Linked DNA regions of Homo sapiens. The protein of the gene in region 2 purifies or fractionates together with the protein of the main gene of each other region. This does not show direct contact. Each region holds a gene or a part of one and is shown on either strand. Other genes may lie near its edges. The genes, in order: SPAG1, WDR72 and HERC4.

Region 1 (3,726 bases), on a different chromosome or scaffold from region 2:
TGGAGGTTGCAATGAGCTGAGACTGTGTCATTGCACTCCAGCCTGGGCAACAAGAGCAAAGCTCTGTCTCAACAACAAAAAAAAAAAGATGGCTGGGCATGGTGGCTCATGCTGTAATCCCAGTACTTTGAGGGGCCAAAGCAGCCCAGGAGTTCAAGACTAGCCTGGACAACATAGTGAAGCCCTGTCTCTACAAACAATTAAAAAAAAAAAAATAGCCAGGTGTGGTGGTACACACCTGTGGTCCCAGCTACTCTGAAGGCTGAAGTGGGAGCATCGCTTGAGTCTGGGAGGTCAAGGCTGCAGCGAGCTGTGATGGTGCCACTGCACTCCAGCCTGGGCAAAAAAGCAACGTATCTGATAAAGAACAATTATTTGGCAACTCAATAAGAACACAAGGCAATTTTTTTTTAACGGGCAAAGGATGTAAAGACACCTCACAATAGAAGTTACATGAAAAGACACTCAATATCATTAGTCACTAGAGATACGCAAATTAAAACCACAATGAGATACCTGGTAGGATGGCTAAAACTAACAAAACGGACAATACTATGTGCTGACCAGGATGTAAAGCAGGTGGAAATTTTATATATTGCTGTCAGGATTGCACAATGGTACAGCCACTTTGGAAAACATTTTGGCAGTCAAAACATAGTATATTTAGGGCTCAGTATTATCTAGGTTTTAGGCATCCACTGCGGGTCTTATCAAAGGTAAGTGGGTAAACAAACTGTGGGATATTCATACAATTTCATACTACTTAGCAACTCAGAGGAGCAAACTATGGACACATGCAACAACACAGATGAATCTCAAAAGCATTATATAAGTGAAAGAAGACACACAGGAATGACAACATACTGTATGATTACATTTATATGCAAGTCTAGAAAAGGCAAAACTATGCTGACAGTTCAGTGGTTGCCAAAGGCCAGGCAGTGGGGTCTACACTGACCACAAATGGGCAAGAGAAAACTTTTAGTGGTGATGGAAATGTTCTGTATCATATACGTTTGTCAAAACTCAGTGAAATGTACACTATAAAGTTGGTAATTTATATGGAATGTAAATTTTATCTCAATAAAGCTGATTAAAAGAAATCTGTAAATATTTAAGAAGAAATTTAAGTGACAGATTCATGAAAAATAACTCAACTTTTCTAGCAATCAAAAAATATACTACAATAGTCCTCCCCTTATCTGTAATTTTGCTTTCTGTGGTTTCAGTTACCCACAGTCAACTGCCATCCAAAAATAGGTGAGTACAATACAGTAAGATATTTTGAGAGAAAGAGAGCTCATATTCACATAACTCTTACAACAGTATGCTGTTATAATTGTTCTGTTTTTTATTGTTAATCTCTTAGTGTGCCTAATTTATAAGTTAAACTTTATCATAGATATGCATATAGAGGAAAAAGCATGGTATATTTAGGCTTCAGTACTATTTGCAGTTTTAGGCATCTACTGGGGGTCTTGGAAAGTATGCCCCAAAGATAAGAAGGGACTATGGTACTACCATTTTTTCAACTATTTAATTGACTAAAAATGATTACAGTATCCAGCAAAGAGTACCTAAAAATGGGCATTTTGTTTGTTTGTTTTTGTTTTTTTTAATAAAGAAACCAGGTCTCTCTGTATTGTCTAGGCTGGCCTTGAACTCTTGGGTTCAAGCAATCCTCCCTGAGTAACTGGGACTATAGGCACACACCACTGCACCTGGCTTGGGCATTCTTATACACTGTTGGGGGTGGTGTATGAAGGTACAACTTTTCTGAGAACATATGTTTGAAAAGGCTTAAAAATATTCAAATCCTTTGATCAAACAATTTAAATTCTTTTTCTCTTTCTCTTGCTTTTTGTTTTTAGACAGGGTCTCACTCTGTCACCCAGGCCGGAGTGCAATGACACCATCACAGCTCACGGCAGCCTCGGTCTCTCAGGATAAAGCGATCCTCCTGTCTCAGCCTCCTGAATGGCTGGGATTACAGACACATGCCACCACGTCCAGCTAATTTTTATATTTTTGTAGAGACAGCTCTACCTATGTTGCCCAGGCTGGTCTCAAACTCCTGGCCTGAAGTGATCCTTCTGCCTCAGCCTCCCAAAGTGCTGGGATTACAGGTGGTGTGAGCAACCACATCTGACCAAGCAATTTGAATTATAATAATTTATCCTGAGGAAATAATCAGGGAGGTGCAAAAAAATTACAAATAGGCCAGGCATGGTGGCTCACACCTGTAATCCCAGCACTTTGGGAGGCCGAGGTGGGTGGATCACCTGAGGTCAGGAGTTCGAGAAGTCTGGCCAATATGGTGAAACCCCATCTCTACTAAAAATACAAAAATTAGCCAGGCATGGTGGCATGCACCTGTAATCCCAGCTGCTCGGGAGGCTGAGGCAGGAGAATCACTTGAACCTGGGAGGCAGAGGTTGCAGTGAGCCAAGATCGTGCCACTGCACTCCAGCCTGGGCAACAAAGCAAGACTCCATCTCAAAAAAAAAAGAAAAAAAATTACAAATAAACATGTTTATACAGCACTATTTATTGAAGATGATTAAATTATAGGTTTTTTAATAGGACAGAATATTATTTAATCAATTTAAATATACACATGTACGGACGCACACACACGCGAATTCGCAATGTTCCCCTGGGTGTAAAAAGCAACCAATCCTGCCTAATTGACACTAAAAGCCCTTTACGGACAAACAAGAAGCCTAGGATTTCCGATAAGTGAAGTAAACATATATAGAATGTCTCAACAATATCTATGGAAAATTGGTATTACTATATACCTTTATATCACCATCAATTTTTTCCCATTCTTCAGCTGTAAAACTGGCTGCTGTTGCTGCTGGTTTATCTTTCCTCAAAGCTCTGCTTTCAGGGGCCAAGGCTTGAAGATGCTTTTCACAAAATTCTGTAAGTTCAGGATAATATCCTTCCTCACCAGATCTTAAAAAGAAATAAATAAGTTTTAGAGTTAGCACCTTATTTAGGATCATCTAGACCAGCGGTTTGCAGGCTGGGTTCCATGGAACCCTGAGGTTCTGTGGAGATCTCAAGGGCTGCTTCCCAGTCTCTTTCCTTAACCCGCATAGTCTCCATTTTTACCCGTTAATCTATGGAATGATTAAAAGAAGAAAAAAAGGAACTCCAAAGTAACCAATTTTCATCACACACTTTAAAAACTGGATAAGGGTGAGTGGGGCGGTGTGGTCCCCGGCACCGTGGAGGAAGTGGGGTTGCTCCGCGGAGTTGGCGTGGGTTCTGGGTTCCTCCCGGCGCCACCATGTCAAAGGTTTCCTTTAAGATCACTCTGAGGTCTGACCCGCGGCTGGCGTACAAAGTACTCTGTTCCTGAAAGTACACCTTTCACAGCAGTCTTACAGTTTGCAACAGAAGAATTTCAAGTTCCTGCTGCAAGAAGTGCAATTATTACCAATGATGGAATAGGAAAAAATCCTGCACAGACCTGCTGGAAATGTTTTTCTAAAACATGGTTCAGAACTGCGAATTATTCCTAGAGTCGTGATGGAAGTTGTTAATATCGGCTGCTTGGAACATACAATTACCTTTCAGAATAAATATTGGTATTTTTTGTTGCTGTAAAATTGAAATCAGGCATTTAACACACTATGAAAACACCAAGAGTCAATGAATAATGAGACTCATCTGTCCCTGTTTGTTGTCTGTACTCTTCATGTGAAGAGGGAATTC
Region 2 (3,726 bases):
CTGTCAACGGGTCATCCCTTACACTTTGGCTTCTCGTGTAAAAATACTGTGTTCTTCCAAGGACTAGTTATCTTCTTCCTTGGCCCTGACATCTACTTCCCTTCTTTCAGTTTCAGCACAAGTTGACATTGGAAGTCAGTCCACTGTAATTATAACAATCCATTTTTCCTCCTAGAATAAGCAAATGGCAGGTACTCCCATAGGCAGAAATACAGGCCTATATGGACAAGGCCTATTTGGAGAAGCCTCCCTAATGCCCACGATTCTAGTGTTTTCTGACTCTGTCCTAGCAATCAGGAATACCTGCCAGGGAAGACTTTAAACTCACCTTTTGCACTAAAGGATTCTAGCAGAAGCTAGGCCAAAACAGACTTTCATCAGCAAGGCTATGAATGCAGAATCCCAAGGTGGTTTGGAAAAAGTGGTAGAGGAAGTACAGGATTTGAGGCTCATAATCTGAAGGAACCATAGCCTTTGTAGCTTTTGTGAACATCTTTGTGGATTTTCTGTCATGAGCCAAGATAAGCCCCACCTCTGTTTCATAGTCCCTATCTCACCACTTGATTATTCAAAATTTTCTCTAGTCCTGGCTCTTCCTACTTTCCCTTATTCCTAAACACATCCCACCTTCTGTCTTCACTATCCTTGCCTCTTTTCTCAGTGTTAAGGCACAGTGTTGTATACTCAATTCAGCAAGTGTTTACTGAATGCCAACTGTGTTCCAGACCTTGTGCTGGTGGCTTTCCTATGCATTTTCTCAAGTAATCCACACATCTACCATTACTGTTATTAGGAAAAGAAGGCTAGGTAAATCTAAATCCCCTGGCTACGACTACATCCCTAGGGATTACATCCCTAGATTTGTATGACCTCAAAGCCCATACCACTTCTTAAAGGCCTTGAAAGTGAGAATTCATAATGATGACATCATCATCTGTTTACAGTTCCACACAGACAAGCCAGTCCACCTATTTCTTTAAAGAAAATGAAACAAAACAAAACAAAACAAAACAAACACAACTTAAATTCAACTACAGGGGTGGTTAAGATGCCAAATCACTCTTAGACTAAAGACTGTTTAGTCTAAGAGTCTTAATCTGTAAAACCTATTCATTATGTATGTGGAAGTGTATGCATGGGCCAGAATGTTTTCAAAGCATCAGAACTTAATACAAAAACACTAAAAAGCTCATCGTAACACTAGTGTCATGGAAAAAGACTCATAATACACAATGTGAGATTTCCACATTGGGGTGACTGCAATGCAGTTTATGACATAAGAGGTAGCAGAGGGAGACACGAAAGGGCTTGCCTGAACCTACAGGCCAACAAAAACCAGGCAATATGTGGCACTATGGCACTTTCTAAAACATCCTGGCCTCTGCTTATTCTAAGAAAAAAAAATCCGTGGCAAAGGGGATCCCTCTTCTCTGCTTGATTTCTACTGACCAAAGAAGTCACTGTCCAGTGATATAAAGAAATTCTGTCCCTAGGGCATAAATAAATATCCAACACCTATAGTTCATGGGTGTATAAGAGCCTGAGAGGCCTGGAATCGATCCAACCCATTTTAACTAGCAAGAAACTACCTGGTAATACCTTGTTTGTATTTCTTGGAGGAGGGACACAAGAAACACTTATTTCATTCCACACAATAATTCACCACAATCAGAGAGAGCACAGCAAGGGCAACACCATCTCCCAGCTGCTGATTACATCAAAGGCTTGCAGCACAAATTCAATTTTATGATGTTAATCTCAGCCTGCCACTCAGAAATTTTCTCTGAGGGATATGATTTTTCTCTGGATTTCATTTTAAGAATGATTTTCTTCATCCACAATCAATAAAGATATGTTTTCATCAAAAGACTCTATCTTGGCAGAATTCAATTGGCTATTTCAACCCCTTTTGGTGACACAATGTTAATTAAAATAGTTTATGTTGCACCTCAACTGGAAAAAGAGGCAGTGAAAATAGGAGCTACTCAGAACACATGTTCTATATACATCAACATGGAAGGCAGAAAATAATTTTCTCCTTCCCCAGGCGACAGCTATTAGCTATTCAAGAGAGTTGCTCTAACTTGGTTTATCTCTGTGATCTCACTGGAAAAAAGAATGAAGTCCTTCCTGTTTATATTTTTTTGTTCAATTGGAAATCAAAATGCATATAAAGAAGATACTTTAAATGCTTACATCCCAGTTCCTCAACAAGAGGAGAAATAATTATCTGTGCTCCTATGTGGCATAACGGATTATTAGGCATCACATTCATTATTTCCCTTAACTAAAAATTAATGATGCTATTACAAATTATTTTTATTTTCAATTTTAAATAATAATTACAGCTAAATACATTGTATTTCTCAAAAGCAGGCATATAGATTCTCAAAAGCGGGCATATAGAATTAGCACAGGGTTTTGCACATTTAAGAAAGAGAAGAAAACTATGCAATGCATCACAGAAAATAAAGCAATTTGTTTTAACAGTGGTTTGGGAAGTGGCAGTTAATTAATTTAACAAAGATTTATAAAGCACCTACTGTGTTCTTGACTCTGTTCTCCTCTTGAGAATGAGATGAAGGCCCCACTTCCTGTCCCATGATGCTGACAGATCATGGGGCCTCCATTACCGCAGAAAGAGAAGGGCTAGGCCTGGTTCCCACAAAGCAGGTAGAGAGCGCAGCAGAGGCTGCACTTAACCCTGCTGGGAGGAGATCAAGAAGAGTTTCTCCAAGGAAGTCCAATTACTGAAACATTCAGCTGGTAATTTACATATCCAGTCTAAAAAAGTGGGGGGCATAGCTCAGTCTCTAATAGAAAAGGTAGTCTCTATCAACCACACCTTCTCACTCCCCCATTCTGAAATTCATTATTCCTCTTAACATAAGAAAGTGGTAACAAAGAAAGTAGGAGTACTGATACCCTAAGGAGAATAAGGATTTCACAGGACTCTGTGTTCTAATCTATACTAAAGCAATCTAAAAATCATATCAGCTTTCTGGGCTAATATGGTTTGGCTTCATCCCCACCCAAATCTCATCTTGCAGTTCCCATAATCCCCACATGTGGTGGGAGGGACCCAGTGGGAGGTAATTGAATCATGAGGATGGTTTCCCCCATGCTGTTCTCGTGATAGTAAGGTCTCGCGAGATCTGATGGTTTCATAAGGGGCTTCCCCCTTTGCTCCGCACTCATTCTCTCTCCTGCAACCCTATGAAGAGGTGACTTCCGCCAGGATTGTAAGTTTCCTGAGGCCTCCCCAGCCACGTGGAAATGTGAGTCAGTTAAACCTCTTTTCTTTATAAATTACCCAGTCTTAGAGCAGTGTCCTTAGAGCAGTATGAGAAAGGACTAATACATGGGCCCTCACAACTCACTGCCGACTCACAAGCAACAAAATGTCAATTAACCAAAAGGTTGACTGGTTCAGTAAATTACATCTCCCTCATCCTGTACTCGCTTATTGTTTTAAACACTTACTGTGTAGGGCTTTACATTTCTCCCAGTTGAATTTCAACTTGTTAAAAAAAAAAGACAGAGAGAGAGAGGAAAAGTCAGTGTCAAAGTAAACAATTGCTACCACTTACTGACTATATGTTAAGTTGTAGACACTGTGCTGCTTAGATTACGTTCACTGCTTCATGCGGTCCTCATAATATCAATATGCATTATTATCACTATTCCAAACATGAAGAAAATGAGTCTTGGAGAACATAAGTAACT
Region 3 (4,292 bases), on a different chromosome or scaffold from region 2:
CTTCCGTCTTGTTTTCCTCCCCCCTCCCAAAGTAAGGTAAACACAGAGTAAATTATGCATTTAAAATCTATCCAGGGTGGCTGAACAGAATTTATTAAAGAGGACCTGCACACTACACACTCTGTACCAAAGATTTATATACTGCAGGCTGATTTTCTTTATTGTTTTATATCGTCATACAAAATAAGGTTTTATAATACTAGTAGTAAAAAAAAAGAAACCACAACATAAAGTACTTAGAACCATACAAATATACACATATAATGGAAATACATAACTTCTACTTTGCTTTTAAAGCTTGATAAACATATAGTTACAACTAGAGAAATTATACGATGATTCAAATTTAAAATGATATAATTATTAAAAATAGCAAATTTTAAAAACATTTCAACTTACCTGGTTTCTTTCTGGATTTTTCATGACCTAGCTGTCCTAGATCATTACATCCACATGTGTACACTGTTCCATCATCCAGAACAAACACAGTATGTCTGAGTCCACATCCTACATCTCGGACCCTTTTATTTATAAAGAAGTCACTTTTTCTGGGCTCTAGTACAATTTCTTCATCAATTCCACCCAAACCTAGCTGCCCAAAGGATGCATTTCCCCAGCACAACATGCTTGTAATTATTTTGGTCTTCCAGTTTCAATAAAAAATTCTCTTCTGAAACCCCGGAAAGTTGGAGGTACCCTATGTCTGAGGAAATAGAAAGAAGTTAATATGACTTCAAAGAAAAAAGGATGTATAATTGCTCTTTCAAGTGCTAGGCTACAATAATTGCTACATGGTAAACATTAAATATACTTTATAACATGCTACATAAGTATCATTCAGTTTCAAAAACCAATCAGTTGTATTTTTTAAAATGTATCATACAGAAATTTTTAGGGAAAATATGACACTTTCTATGATCCTTTGCAAAATTTAAAACATATTAACTAGTTTTGACTTCTGGTTATCTTGTGATAGACTAAACTAATAGGAATAAGTACCTTGATGAAATTAATCACAATTTTTTCTACTTTTTGCTTTAAATAATTTCAATGGGAACAAGAAATAAGACATCTTTCCTCTGCCCAAAAAGCAAATATACACAGTGCAAAATTTAGCCAACTGCAGAAACATAACCTTGCAATCCTAGTATAATTAAGCTTTCTAATACCTACCTCCACATCAACAGAAAATGGAGTTCTTATCTGTAACAGAAATAAAACCAATAATGGAAATTTAAAGCAATTTTCCACAATTTAAACGACTCTCCCAATTACTCTTTAGCCCAGAGAGAAAATGAAGATTCTCTTACCAAACCATAATCTTAAATCACCTCCAAAGATCCCAGATTTCAAATCAAAATACTAACATTCCAACCTCACTAATTTTAAAACTAAATCAATGTGCATAATTATAATACAGAAAAAAAAACATGCAATTTAAATATCAATTCTCTCCAAAATTCAACCTCTTTTATTACAAGTGGTAACCGGGATTAAAAAAATCACCCGTGGGCAATCTATATCTATCTATATCTCTGAGACAATTATTTAAAGATTGGCGGGGGGGAATTGCAAATAACTCCAGCACTGCAGATTTTTCAAGAATAGGAATGGATAGTCTGATGGCGAAATCTGTAGAACTTTCCAGCACACTGACTGAATATTTCCTCACTTGTAAAGAAAGACACAAATAACAGAGTCCACTTCATCTATACATACGTAGACTTTTAAACACATCGCGTTACTAAATATCATAATTACAGGAAGTCAGCCTTATTCTGTAGCAGTCATCCACATTCTTACAGAGCCTGCGAAGTTTCAACTCCAATTTTCCTATGTTCCTGTTAGCAAGTGCCCAAGGTGTCCCATTCCACGACCCATCATCCCATTAACAGAAGTTTGATTTCATTCTTTTGGGGTATCAGAACTCGATAATTCCCAAGAGTTCTGCATTGTCTTCCCATATTTAAAAACAAAATAAGAGTAATACAGGAAAATACCCCGACTTCAGCGCGCGAGGTTTAACCACCCTTTTCTTTAAAACACAGAGGCGTCCTCTCGCCAGCAACAGGTAGGGAAATGAGAAGCAGTTTAGTCCCGTCTTTCCCTGAACGTGCACCCAGATCAGCTCATGGGGACTGGGAAAGAGAAATCATCTGCACACACCCAACCTCGCAGCCAAGCAGACGACTACCGCAACCGGCCGCTCGCAACAGCTTCAGAGGCCGGCGGCCGAGGCTTGGCAGTGCGCGGCCTCAACCTGAGAGAAGCCCATCCCCAGGCAGATGAGACATTCCAGCCCCGGGGCCAGGGAGCCACAGCCCTGCCCTCGCCCCACGCCCCTCACCCCCAGGAAGCGCGGAGAAAGCGCCCTATGCCGGGCCGGCCTGCATCCGCCCAGCCCGGCCTGCCCCTCCCTAACGCCGTCACACGCCCCCGAACCCGCTGGGGCCACAACTCGCCCAAGCCCTTCAGGGTAGGGGAAGCCCAAGGTGACGGGGGGCGGCCCCTGCCCAGAGAGCAAGGCAGCGCGGTCGCTGAAGCACGTCTCCGGCTCCTGGGACCCTCCTCTGTCAGCCAGTGGCGACGATCACCAGGGCACCTCCGGCGTCTGTGCCGCTGCTCCGCTGCTCCCCTCCCCGGCCCCTGGGAAACTTTACCGGGTTCCTTAGAGAAAAGCGGACGCCACTGCTGTCCAGTCCAGAGACAGCCGTCAGCGACCCGGATGGAGCGGGCGGGGAAGAACGGGAGGCAAGCGGGGCGGAGAGCACCAGGGGTGGGGAGAGTTGGGGAAGAGACTGGGTAGGAGAAGGCAGAGGGGGAGGTGGCCACGCGAGGGAGGCGGGGGAGGGGCTGGCCGGAAGTGAACCGCAGAGCACGCGCGCGAGCCCGCCCACTTCCCGGCCCCGGCACCGGCGCCTGCGCCGAATCTTCCGGGGGGGGGGGGGGGGGGGTGGCTGGCCACAGGCGCCTGCGCAGTGTGCCGCTTTGCGTTGCTTTAAGAGGGAAAAGCCAAATACAGAAAGTTGGAGTTTGCGAAGACAAACGAAGAAGATGTCAACTGTTTTTGAGAATGCTTCGGCGTGCACAAAGCCTTTTAATGAAGAAAATCACTTTGTTTTTTGGTTTGGTTGTCTTTGTGCTCATGGATGCTAGCTAGTCTTTTTATTATTTTACTCTCTCTTTTCCCAAGGAGATTTTAAAGTAGCAGATGAAACATCACAATTATGAACATAAAGACTGGTGAAGAGTTATTTTATCCCATGGCCTCAACTGGAGCCAGTCTGAGGATGTGAGATGTGTTGATGGCAATGGCTGAAGCTACTCTACTACCACCACCACCAGTTCAGTTTCCTTGTACAGTGTTGGCTACCATCACTTTCTACACTCTCCCTGAAAGATAGGCTTGAATTGCAGGGTCTCATTCTATCAGAGAAAATTACACATTGGCTGCAGTCCCTGATTCATAAAAACGAAGTCTGGATCTCCTAGGCCAGCCTTAACTTCTTAAAAAGCAGGAGAACTTGAAACAATGCACTTTTGAAATTGTAAGTTGGGTATTGCTAGAATGAATATTCAGTACCTAGAAGAAGTTCCACAAATAGGCCATCTTTCTTTTTCTTTTCTTATTTTTATTTATTTATTTATTTATTTATTTATTGAGACAGAGTCTCGCTCTGTTCCCCAAGGCTGGAGTGCAATGGTGCGATCTCAGTTCACTGGAACTTCCGCCTTAGCCTCCTGAGTAGCTGGGACAACGGGCATGCGCCGCCATGCCCGGCTAATTTTTGCATTTTTAGTAGAGACAAGGTTTCGCCATATTGGCCAGGCTGGTCTCAAACTCGTTACCTCAGGCGATCCACCCGCCTCGGCCTCCCAAAGTGCTGGAATTACAGGCGTGAGCCACCGGTCCTGGCCTGTTTCTTTATCTCTTGTTGAAAAACATGTTTTAGATAAGAACTGTCTGTGCTAGAATATGTTCAAGTGTGTGTATTCGTGTCCTAGGCTTGCCATATAAATTAAAACAGATTCGGTGGCTTAAAACAACAGAAATTTATTGTCTCACAGTTCTGAAGACCAGTTCAAAATCAAGGTGAAAGTAAGCTTGGTTCTCTCTTGGGGTCTCTGAGAGATAATCTTTTCCAGGCTTCTCTGCTAGCTTCTGGTGGTTGCCAACAATCCTTGGCAATCCTTGTAGAAGCATCCCTCTTCACCTTGTTTTCCCTGTGTGTCTGTCCAAATTTCCCTCTTTTATAAGGACACCAGATATTGGATTAGAGCCTACCCTGATC

The links.
Region 1: the proteins of WDR72 (region 2) and SPAG1 purify together in Homo sapiens (affinity purification with mass spectrometry; one large-scale study listed by BioGRID and IntAct). This does not show direct contact.
Region 3: the proteins of WDR72 (region 2) and HERC4 purify together in Homo sapiens (affinity purification with mass spectrometry; one large-scale study listed by BioGRID and IntAct). This does not show direct contact.

What each region holds. Positions count from the first base shown.
Region 1 is NC_000008.11:100,165,049-100,168,774, reverse strand, and holds part of SPAG1 (sperm-associated antigen 1), read right to left. Parts: intron 2,962-3,726; coding exon 2,802-2,961; intron 1-2,801. UniProt on the Homo sapiens protein: May play a role in the cytoplasmic assembly of the ciliary dynein arms. May play a role in fertilization. Binds GTP and has GTPase activity.
Region 2 is NC_000015.10:53,753,077-53,756,802, forward strand, and holds part of WDR72 (WD repeat-containing protein 72), read right to left. Parts: exon of another isoform or gene 3,591-3,726; intron 1-3,590. UniProt on the Homo sapiens protein: Plays a major role in formation of tooth enamel. Specifically required during the maturation phase of amelogenesis for normal formation of the enamel matrix and clearance of enamel proteins.
Region 3 is NC_000010.11:68,072,484-68,076,775, forward strand, and holds the start of HERC4 (probable E3 ubiquitin-protein ligase HERC4), read right to left. Parts: upstream 2,801-4,292; 5' UTR 2,661-2,800; exon of another isoform or gene 1,204-2,660; 5' UTR 1,174-1,203; exon of another isoform or gene 704-1,173; 5' UTR 626-703; coding exon 400-625; intron 1-399. UniProt on the Homo sapiens protein: Probable E3 ubiquitin-protein ligase involved in either protein trafficking or in the distribution of cellular structures. Required for spermatozoon maturation and fertility, and for the removal of the cytoplasmic droplet of the spermatozoon.